2 separate regions of the Homo sapiens genome follow, and region 1 is linked to region 2. Evidence: fine-mapped expression QTL. Tissue or cell type: monocytes. Region 2 holds a variant in brackets; the other region holds the start of a gene. All regions are shown on one strand. Distances are between the middles of the regions.

The links. PIP is the estimated chance that this variant, and not a neighbour inherited with it, causes the effect.
Region 1: THUMPD3 starts here. The variant in region 2 is fine-mapped to the expression of THUMPD3 in monocytes (CEDAR, PIP 0.91).

Annotation. Positions count from the first base shown.
Region 1 is chr3:9,359,998-9,365,248 of GRCh38, forward strand. It overlaps THUMPD3 (THUMP domain 3 tRNA guanosine methyltransferase), which reads left to right and starts at 3,057. Exons shown (of 10, transcript NM_001114092.2): 1 at 3,057-3,130; 2 at 5,019-5,251. The coding sequence starts at 5,072. It also overlaps a transcript of SRGAP3 not described here. RefSeq lists enhancers at 2,787-2,996, 3,217-3,276, 3,347-3,426, 3,447-3,506.
Region 2 is chr3:9,496,642-9,502,157 of GRCh38, forward strand. LHFPL4 (LHFPL tetraspan subfamily member 4) reads right to left here. Exons shown (of 4, transcript NM_198560.3): 4 at 1,720-5,516. Among named protein-coding and RNA genes, the nearest start is that of LHFPL4, 54 kb to the right of the region's middle. RefSeq lists an enhancer at 4,685-5,410. The variant G/C (reference allele first, on the strand shown) is at 3,436.

The DNA.
Region 1 (5,251 bases), 140 kb before region 2:
TAGTTCACTACAGACTCGAACTCCTGGGCCCAAGCAATCCTCCCATGTCAGCCTCTTCAGTGTCTGGTACCACAGATGAGTGCCACCACACCCAGCTACTTTCTAAATTTTTTGTAGAGACAGGTCTCCCTATGTTGTCCAGGCTGGTCTCAAACTCTTGGGCTCAAGCAATCTTCCCGCCTCTGCCTCCCAAATTGCTAGAATTACAGGCATGAGCCAGCATGCCCAGTTTGTGTACAAGTTTTTGTTTGAACACTTGTTTTCAGTCTTCTTGGGTATAAAGCTATTACAGATGTTCCTTGACTTACAATGGGATTATATCCCAATAAACCCACCATACGCAGAAAATAGTGTAAGTTAAAAATGCATTATAACCCATCAGCCCATTGTAAAGTCAAAAAATTGTAAGTCAAACCATCCTAAGTCAGAAAGCATCTGTAGTGGAATTGGTGAGTAATGTGTTCTATGTTTAATTTTTTGACGAAAGGCTAAATTGTTTTCCAATGGACGTGTATTAGTCCATTTTCACACTGCTGATAGAGACATACCCAAGACTGGGCAATTTGCAAAAGAAAGAGGTTTAATGGATTTACAGTTCCATGTGGCTACGGAGGCCTCACAATCATGGTGGAAGGTGAAAGGCACTTCTTACATGGCGGCAGCAAGAAAGAGAATGGGAGAAGCGGAAGTGGAAACCTCTTATCAAACCATCAGATCTTGTGAGACTTATTCACTACCACAAGAACAGTATGCAGGGAATCACCCCCATGATTCAATCATCTCCCACTGGGTCCCTCCCACAATATATGGGAATTATGGGAGTATACTTCAAGATGAAATTTAGGTGGAGTCACAGAGCTAAAACATACCAGGGCATATATCATTTTGTATTTTCATCAGCAATGTATAAGTGCTCCATTGCCCCACATACTCATTAGAACTTGGAACTGTTGATTTTTTGTTTTTTACTTTTAGTCATTTTGATGAGTATCCCATTGTGATTAATTTGCAATTCCCTAATGACTAATGATGTTCAGCATCTTTTCATGTGCTTATTGGCCATTTGTCCATCTTTTGGAGAAATATCTATTCAAGCCCTTTACATATTTTTCATTTTATTTTTGAGACAAGGTCTCACTCTGTCACCTGGGCTGAAGTGCAGTGATGTGATCATAACTCATTACAGCCTCAACCTCCCCAGCTCAAGCTATTCTCCTGTCTCAGCCTCCCGAGTAGCTGGGACTACAGGTGAGTGTCACCATGCCTAGCTAATTTTTGTCATTTTTTTGTAGCGACAGAGTTTTGCCATGTTGCCAGAGCTAGTCTCAAACTCTGAGCTCAAGCGAGCCACTCACCTCAGCCTCCCAAAGCGCTGGGACTACAGGCATGAACCACCACTCCCAGCCCCTTTGCACATTTATAAATTGTGTTCTTTTTGGTTTTGTTTTGTTTTAAATTCGGTTTATCTTTTTGTTGTTGGGTTCCTTTCACAATAAGTTAACTTTTGTCAACTGAAAAATAAAAATAAAATTCTATGCCCCCCAACTGACTGAACAGGCCCTCTCTTGGCCAAGGAGACCCTAGAAAAAACTTGGAAGCTGAGTTCCTACTCATGACAGGATGGGAAGTCGGACACACCTCTTTATAACCCCTCCCTCTATAATCGCCATTAGATTTTCTTTCCTAAGGGTTAAACAGAAACCAGCCCTTTTGAAAGACTCACTCCACCAGCCTGATGCTGACCCTCCCATTTGCAGTTTCAATAGAACAACCGACTAGCATTCCTTCCTGATAAGAGATCACCCACCATCCAGGGAGTGGTTCTGGCCAGTCGACAGAGGACGTGCAGTGAGGGTTTTCACATCCCCTGCTTCACCTTTTGAAGTCAAGCGGTAGAAAACTCTACCCTTGGATCATGCTAAGGCCACCATTTTTTAAACATGGGATCCACAGAGAGGCATGAAGCTCAACTGCACATGCACAAATTGCTCCTTTCATAAATATTCGTGACCCCTCTTACAGTTTATTTAACATGTATATTTGGCCACTGTGTTTAGCATAAATCCCTGTCTTATTCTTCCAACCCTGGAAGTGCCTGTTTTTGGCTTCTGACTGGAAGCTAGGCTTCCCAGTCTGTCAAAATGGCTACCATGCAGGTTCAACTCTTTTTTTTTTTTTTTTTTTTTTTTTTTGAGATGATGTCTTGCTCCCAGACTGGAGTGCAGTGGCACAATCTTGGCTCTCTGCAACCTCTGCCTCCTGGGTAAGCAACTCTTCTGCTTCATCTTCCCAAGTAGCTAGGACTACAGGTGCAGGCCACCACATCCAGCTAACTTTTGTATTTTTAGTAGAGATGGAGTTTCACCATGTTGGCCAGCCTGGCCTCAAACTCCTGACCTCAAGTGATCCACCCGCCTCAGCCTCCCAAAGTGCTGGGATTACAGGCATGAGCCACTGTGCCCGGCCAGGTTCAACCCTTTATGAGAAATAAAGTTCATCTGATTGGGCACAGTGGCTCATGCCTGTAATCCCAGCACTTTAGGAGGGCTAGACAGAAGAATCACTTGAACCCAGATGTTCGAGACCAGCTTAGGCAACATAGTGAGCCCCACTATTTCTATTTTTTTTAAACTAAAGAAAAATATGAAGTAAACAGTGCTAAAATAGTGATGGCAATACAGAAATCAGGAACTAGTGGCATGACATTTTGAGAAAGATATTTAAATAAGCTGGAGAGACTCGGTGTCTCCAGCTTTAAAACAGAAATCAGTCTCTGCCACTTCATAGGTGCTAGAACAAAAGAGACTTGTTCCAAATGAGATGACGCATGTGAAGCGCTTACCCAGTGCTCGGCAAGGGGAAGCACTCTCTAAACGTTAGCAAATACCATGGTAGGACACAAGGCCCCTGACTCTCCGCTTTCAGCTTACTGAAGATCCTCAAAACCAACAGCACACAGCTTCCAGCGCATGCTCCTTTCCCCAAGACCTTGTGGGGGAACCCGCCGCCAGCGCGGAGCCACCGTGACTCGTAGCCTGACTTCCGTTTCCGGGGGCGGCTTCCGGCGGCGTGACCTGACCGCAAGAGGCCAATGGAGTGTGGGAGCTGAAAGGGTCTTCGCTGGCGGCCGGTAACTGGCGGCGGTTGGGAACGGCCGAGTGTGGCTCTTCTGGTGTTTCAGCTTGGGGAGAGAGGGGTGGCCTTCCTCTTGCAGTTGAGGCCGGCGCCGAGCCGGACTTCAGGCGGATCTCGTGGCGGAGCCCATCTTGCTCCCTCTCCCAGGCCTTTACCCGCTCCCTAGGATTCCCGGGCCCTGTAGGTGGGAGTTGGGAGACGTGAGTTCTCTTTCATTCTGCGCCTCTCATTGGCTCTCTGACCTTGTGCGGAACGCGTCCTTTAGCTGACCTCAGCTGCATTTTTTAGAAGATGGAGATTGTATTCACAGTGACTGTCAGCTTTTTAACGGCGGGAACTGACGTAGTGTTAAACACTGTCGTGTATCGCTGGCACAGCACAAGGACATTATAGGTATTCTGTACTCAATTAAGTTATTTTGAGTCACAGACCTTTTGAAAATCTCGTGTAAGCTATGGCCCCTCCACCTCTCTAATACTTCCCCCGGCCCCCACCCCAAGCACACACAAAAGCTTATGCATAGGAAATTTGTTTTACTATTTCGGATTACTTCCAAGATCTCTCTCCTGATGCCCATCTATGGATCCCAGAGTCTGGCAAGTAGTAGGCGTTTGAACATTTGTAATCATTAGATAGTAAGTATTCAGTTAACCATTTTTATTTTTAATTTTTTCTTTTTTTTTTTTTTTTTTTTTGAGACAGGGCCTCACTGTGTCACCCAGGCTGGAGTGCAGTCCTCCCACCTCAGCCTCCCAAGTAGCTGGACTCCAGGCGCCCACCACCACGCCCAGCTATTTTTTGTGTTTTTGGTAGAGATGAGATTTTGCCATCTTACGCAGATTGGTCTCGAACTCTTGGCCTCAAGCAATCTACTCACCTCAGCTCCCTAAAGTGCTGGGATTACAGGCATGAGCCAGTGTGCCCAGCCCAGTTAATCATTTTTAAATGCATGAAATGCTATTTCACAGGAGGGAAGAAGATAGATAGCCTATTAATAAGTTTTAATTATTGGCCTAACCAGGTACTACTCTCACTTGTCTCCTAACGACTCTAGGAAAGAGGTATTACTAATTACTTAATTACATTTGAAGGTTTGGGAGAATTAATTTGCCATAAGTCATTCAACCTATGATGGTGGAGGCAAGAATTCAAACCTGTATCTATCTGAAACTCCAAAAGCCCCATATTATTATTATTATTATTATTTATTTTATTTATTTATTTATTTTTTTGAGACAGAGTCTTGTTCTGTTACCCCAGCCGGAGTGCAGTGGCATGATCTCAGCTCACTGCAATCTCCACCTCCCGGATTCAAGCAATTCTCCTCCCTCAGCCTCCCAAGTAGCTGGGATTACAGGCTCCCACCACCACACCTGGCTAATGTTTGTATTTTTAGTAGAGACGGGGTTTCACCATGTGGGCCAGGCTGGTCTTGAACTCCTGACCTCAGGCAATCTGCCCGCCTCGGCCTCCCAAAGTGCTGGGATTACAGGTGTGAGCCACCACGCCCAGCCAAGCCCTATATTCTTAACTAACCATGTTCTTAACATCTAGATGCAGAAATGGATTTGAATGTGATCTGCAGTTTCTGTCGTAGTTATGAAATGGCTTTTGTCAACATGGGTTACCCCAAAGCAAACATTGCATGCTATGGAAATACTTCTTGTCTCTTTTTCTCCCATGGTATCTGTATTGCTTCTTTAATAATAACATCATGTTTTACAGCCTGCACTCTGTGCCCATGTTTATTCAACCCTTTTTACTTTGGTGACTGTTTATCAGATGTGTTGCCTTGTTCTTCCTGCCCTCCAGAGCCCATGTTTTTAATTATAACTGAAATATGAGATGATAATATTTGGGCTTTATTTCTTTTTCTTTTAAAGGACAGTACTGCTTTTAAAGAGACAGTGTTAGGGATCTTGGAAGCACAGCCAACATGTGTGACATTGAAGAAGCCACTAACCAACTCCTAGATGTGAACCTTCATGAGAACCAGAAGTCTGTACAAGTGACAGAAAGTGACCTCGGAAGTGAATCTGAGCTTCTAGTCACTATTGGAGCCACTGTACCTACTGGCTTTGAGCAAACAGCTGCAGATGAAGTCAGAGAGAAACTT
Region 2 (5,516 bases):
TGCAGCCTGGGCAACAGAGGGAGACTCCATCTCAAAATAAATAAATAAAACAAATGATGCAGTCTCAGGTATGGCTTTATAACAATGCAGAAATGGGCTAACAGTCTACCCCTAATCCAGCCCCCTAATGCTACCACCAGAGTGCTCTTTCTAAAATGCAAATTGAGTCATTTTTCCTTCTGCTTCAAATCCTTCAGTGGTTCCCCATTGCTCTTAAGTCCAAACTCCTGTCCATGGCCCCCAAGCTTTCTCATGGTCTGGCCCTCGCCTGTCTCTCTAGACTCATCTCTGACTCCTCCCTGCCTCGTACTTCACATTTCAAACTAAGTTGCTTTTCGTCCTCCATACACAGTTCTGCTGCCTACCTCAGTCTTTTTCCTCAAGCTGCCTTCTCTTTGACCTTCCTGACCCCTCCTGCCTAACTTCTCATCCTACAGCAAGACCTCCTCCTACGCTGCCCACGTCACCAAAAGCCATTTAAAGTATTCCTGCCTAGGATACCCACAATACCCTGCATGTGGCAAGTCATGCGTTATTTTCACATGTTCATCTCCCCAACCAGAATTATGCTTAAGACAGCATCTCTGTTTTGCTCATTTTTTTTCTAGCTTAAGTGCTTAGCATACACTAAGTGCTTAAAATGTGTTGGAAGAGGACTCCATTTCCAAGTCTTCAATGTAGCTACCTGGTACTGCGCACATTACAGCGTGCCAGATACCCTGCAGAGCAAAGTGCATATATTCCCTGGTATGTTGCTTACAGCTTCCCTTGGGGGAGTCACTATTGTTTTCTCTATTTATTCAATGGGGCTTTAGAGAGAGGCAAAGTGACTGGACTGAGCACTCTGGCTAGAGCAGATGAGGCTCTACTCTTTTCTGCCTGTATGGACTTGGACAAGTCGTGCCTGTGCTGTCAGAGGTGTGCAGAGATTACTGTATCCCTCTCTCTATTCACTCCTTTCTCCTTTGTATCAGAACCCTATTTTTTTTTTTTTTTGAGACGGAGTCTTGCTCTGTTGCCCAGGCTGGAGTGCAATGGCGCCATCCCACCTCCCTGCGACCTCCGCCTCCTGGGTTCAAGCAATTCTCCTGCCTCAGCCTCCTGAGTATCTGGGATTACAGGCACGCACCACCATGCCTGGCTAATTTTTGTATTTTTAGTAGAGACAGGGTTTTGCCATGTTGACCAGGCTGGTCTCAAACTCCTGACCTCAGGTGATCCACCCACCTCAGCCTCTGAAAATGCTGGGATTACAGGCATGAGCCACCTTGCCCGGCCAAGAACCCCAGTTTTATTTGGGCTGGCAATGCGCCGAGATAACAGACCACACTTTTTCAGCCTCCTTTACTGTTATGTGGCCCAAGTGACACAGTCCTATGGAATTTCCAGAAGTCTTCAAATGAAATGTGGACCAGGTGACTGGAGCTCCAGCAGCCCACGTTGGGCCATGAGGTGTTCTTGAGGATGTAGCCAGGATTGAAAATGGCAGTGCAGAAAGATAGGAGCCTGGGTTCTGGATAACACTGAGAGCCATATCAGCCGTGATCTACCCACCTCCAGGCTTTTTTTTTTTTTTTTTTTTTTTTTAATGTGATGGTAAAATAAACTATCTTGTTAAGCCACAGTAGTAGGGTTCTGTTAATACCAGACAAACCTGATCCATAGGGTTGGAATCTTACCCCTCTTGATCCCAGTGACTCAGAGAAGTGGCAGCCAGCGTGGGTGATAGAAAGTGTTTCTTTATTTGAATGTCATTCCACCTGCACTGAAGCTTAAACCCAGCAGCAGCAGAAGGGGTCAGGACCAAAATAAATGTTACCAAATTAGACAATGAACAGCGAGGACACACTCAGACAAAACTTACTAATGGGGTATAGACAACACCAAGCTATCCTAACAGCACACAGCACAGGCCCTCGGAGGCCTGCCCATCAGAGCTCTGCGGAAGGCTCCCTTGTTCCCTGTTCAGGAAACTCCAGTCCCACCCAAAGGTTAGCCGTGGGCCAGGCAGGGGCCTGCAGAAGTTTCTGGTGCTGGGAACATCCCAGCTTCTCCAAAGACAGGGTTTCCCTTTCTCTTTCTCAGTTCACACTGGAAGCTGGAGAAAGGTTATTCCCCGTGTGCCCAAGCAGGATGCTCAAAAGGCCAGGGACTCTCCCCACAGCCTTATCTAAAAGTTCTCATCATCTTGGCTATCAGGCCTGAAAAGGATCTTGATTCTTTGGTCCTCACCCCCTCAGGAAAGTTTTCCTTCATGGGTACCGGTCCCCAAAGACGAAAGTTTTCATAGCCCCGGTTCCCAGAAGGACTCAACTGACCAGACTGTGGGCCAGGGACTGAACCACCCCTAGGCTGTGGCTGCCGTGGCCTCTCCTGAGTCCCCAGATCAGGCAGAGAAAAGCGGGCAATGGCAGACCCCTGATCACAGTTAGGGGGGTCACAGTTAGGGGGGGACTTCTCTTGGGACCTGAAGCCGGAAGGCTCTAGGTTGGAGCCCAACAAGGCCCTCCTGGGGTCAGAAACAGGCACTGATCTCCTCTGCTTACCTCCTCCTGAAGGCTAAAGCCAGATCGCCCGACGAGAGCAGAGGCAAACCACAAAGCCCCCTTCCCATGATGTCTTTATTGCCCCAGGAGGGCCATCAGGGCCTCACCTGGGGCCCCCACTGGAGCACCTGCCACCTGCCCCATCCACACCTCTGCAGAACCCAGGGCCCCAGTCTATGGTTTGGTCCCCACTCTGACTTCTACCCCTTGCCTGTGTCACCCTGGGGTTCCCGCAGACTTCAGCCCACACAACTCTGCCTTCCTGACTCCAAACTCCCTGGTGCATCTCCCCCTGGCTCTGCCAAGATGGCAGCTGGCCAGGTGCGGTGGAATGGGAATGTTGCCAGGCTACCCCACCAGGGAACTAGCCTCCCTCCTCTCCACCCGGCGCTGACCCACTCCTAAGTCAGCTGGACCCACTACGTCCTCTGAAGTGGCTTCCTTCACTCCAGTTCTTCCCAAAAGGATGCGGCCTTGGCTGCCTGTGCCCCGGGCCTCCAGCCTCTGAAAGGTCAGTTCTATCCCCCGCACCAGGGCACAGGTTTGGTGGGTGTCCTTGGGGAACAAGGTGTGGCAAGGACACCTGGTGGCAGGCGTCCTTGGGGGAACAAGCTCTCCCCTCACCCAGTGCCCAGATAGCAACCCCCTCCCCACTGCCCCGCATCCTGGCTCCTTCATCCTCCTCTCCTTCCTCTGCATCCCATTCTTGCCCCCAACCCACATCTCCATTTACCTCTTCCCCGCTCCCGAGTCCTTTTTCCGCCTTTTCATCCATTTCCCCTCCCCCACCCCAAGCTCTCGGGCAGCCTCTCAGCTGGTCTCTCATCTCTCTCCACCTCTGCCCCGTCTCTCTCGATCTCTCCTCCTCGCGCTGTTTCTCTGTGCCTGT[G/C]CGTCCCCCTCGCTCCTTCTCCAATCATCTCTCATCTCCCTGTCTCTGCACCCCTCTTCTCCTCACCCCAGTGTCTTCTCCCATTCCCAGTCGCTTGCTGCGCCCCTCCCCTCACTCTCTCCTAACTCTGCTCTCCCCCTCCAACGCTGGGCTTGGTTTGCATCTTTGAGGAACTCCCTCCTACCCCAACTCCCTCCCACGGGGCTCCCGCATCCTCCCGCATTTAACTCGGACCCTCTGTCCCGCAGCGCCCCTACCCCAGGCCGACTGGACTGTCCGGGAAGGCGCCGGCGGGGAAGGGGAGCCCAGCGCTGGGACCAGAGCACTGCGGGGAGGCTTTGCCCGGGAGGAGTAAGTGGAGGAGTGAAGTCGGGACTTGGTAAGTTCCAGGTGGCAGGAACCCACTAGGTCCCAACATCTGATTCCGGCTAGGGTCCAGAGTGGGGAGACAGGCAGGGGACTTCTAGGGTCTTTCTTGGAAACCCTAACTCTCAGGTCCAAGTCCTGTGGAAATGAACACAAGGTTGGCAAACACATGGCGCTCAAGCGACCCTCTCCCCTCCGCCGAGGCCCGAGGCGGCTTCCCCTGGCATCCTGCAGGGCACCGCCCCTTCCCTGCAGGTCCAGGCCGCCAGGAGGGGGCGCTGGACGAAGCCGGTCTGCACCAGCAACTAGTGCTGAGGGAGCTGTCCAGGCCCCAGGGCAGGGAGGCTCCCCGGGAGAGATGGCTCTGCCGCCAGACCCACAGGGGAATGACGGGTGTTCAAAAAATACCAGGAGTCTCCCTCACCTGCTCCCTGCCAAGGGGAAGGGAGACGCCCCCACAGTGGGTGGAGGGGGGAGAAACTTCTCACCTGTCCCCCAACACACACACACACACACACGCTCACACGCGCACACACACGCACACACATTTCACCCACATACACATACACTCATGCCTCGGCTCCAAGCACTGCCCATAGGTGCAGACCCTGGGCATATCGCAAGGCGAGAGGTGGGCCAGGAGGAGGAAGAGGCTGGGACAGGGTAACAAGGCTTAGGAAGGGGGACAGGGGTACCCTGTTCAGAGATGACCTGCAAGTTCAAGTTATGCAGAAAAGTATCAAAGAGACAAGACAGTCTCTGCCCTTGGTAGACGCCTGGGGTATGGAGGGCATGAAAAGGGGCAGAAGGGGTAATGCATCCCCCAACTCCCCACCTCTGGGGTCCCCTCCACACCCCCAACCCTGACAACAGGGCCAAGAAGTCTGTGCTGTACAAAACAGGCCAGGGTCAAGGGTCCAGTCATTGGTGAGACATCCCAGCAGAGAGGAGGCCTGGGCAAAAGAGGCCAAGGTCAAGGGCTCAGTCATCAGTGAGATGTTCCAGCAGAGAGGAAGAGGAGGCCAGGCCAGCCCGGGCTGAGCAGCTTCTAAGCTCCAACTGCCGAGGCCACGTACCCCCTCCCGCTACCTCCAGAGCCTGAAAGTCTTTTCTGACTCTGGGCTGATCAGGGCCCCGGTCTGCAGCTGACAGCAGGGCCCTGTGCATCCCTCGGTGCAGCTCTCCCTCAGGGTGAGCTGGGAGCAGGCCGGAATGGAGCAGAGGAGGTCCCAGGGGAGACTGGTGGCACCTGGAGCTTTGTGGCAGATGTGGTGGAACCAACATCAGCCAAAAAAGAAAAAAAAAAAAAGTAGGAAAGAGTCCAGCCCACCCTGGAGCAGTATCTAGAATAAATTTCTTGAAGAGGCAGGGACCAGAAGAGGTGCGGATACAGCCAGGCGGCAGCCCTCCAGACTGAGGGGGCCTGGGGAGCTGGAACTACAGCTCCGCTCTCCCTGGGGATCTGCAGGGACCTCCAGGCCAGTCTAGAGAGGAGAGGAGAAGCCCAAGGGCCTACGCAGATGCAGGCTCCCTTAGGTCAAATTGAGGGAGGAGCAAGAATTAGACCCTCCCAAGGTTTGGAGGGCCTCTCCTCTCCCCCAGGCCACATCCAGGCTTTCCTCTCCTCAAAGCCTGGAGCTTGCAGGGTAGTCGGTGAGAAGTAAGTCTGAGATCAGGGTCTTCCCTCAGAGCTTGAATGGAGTGACGAGAGGGCA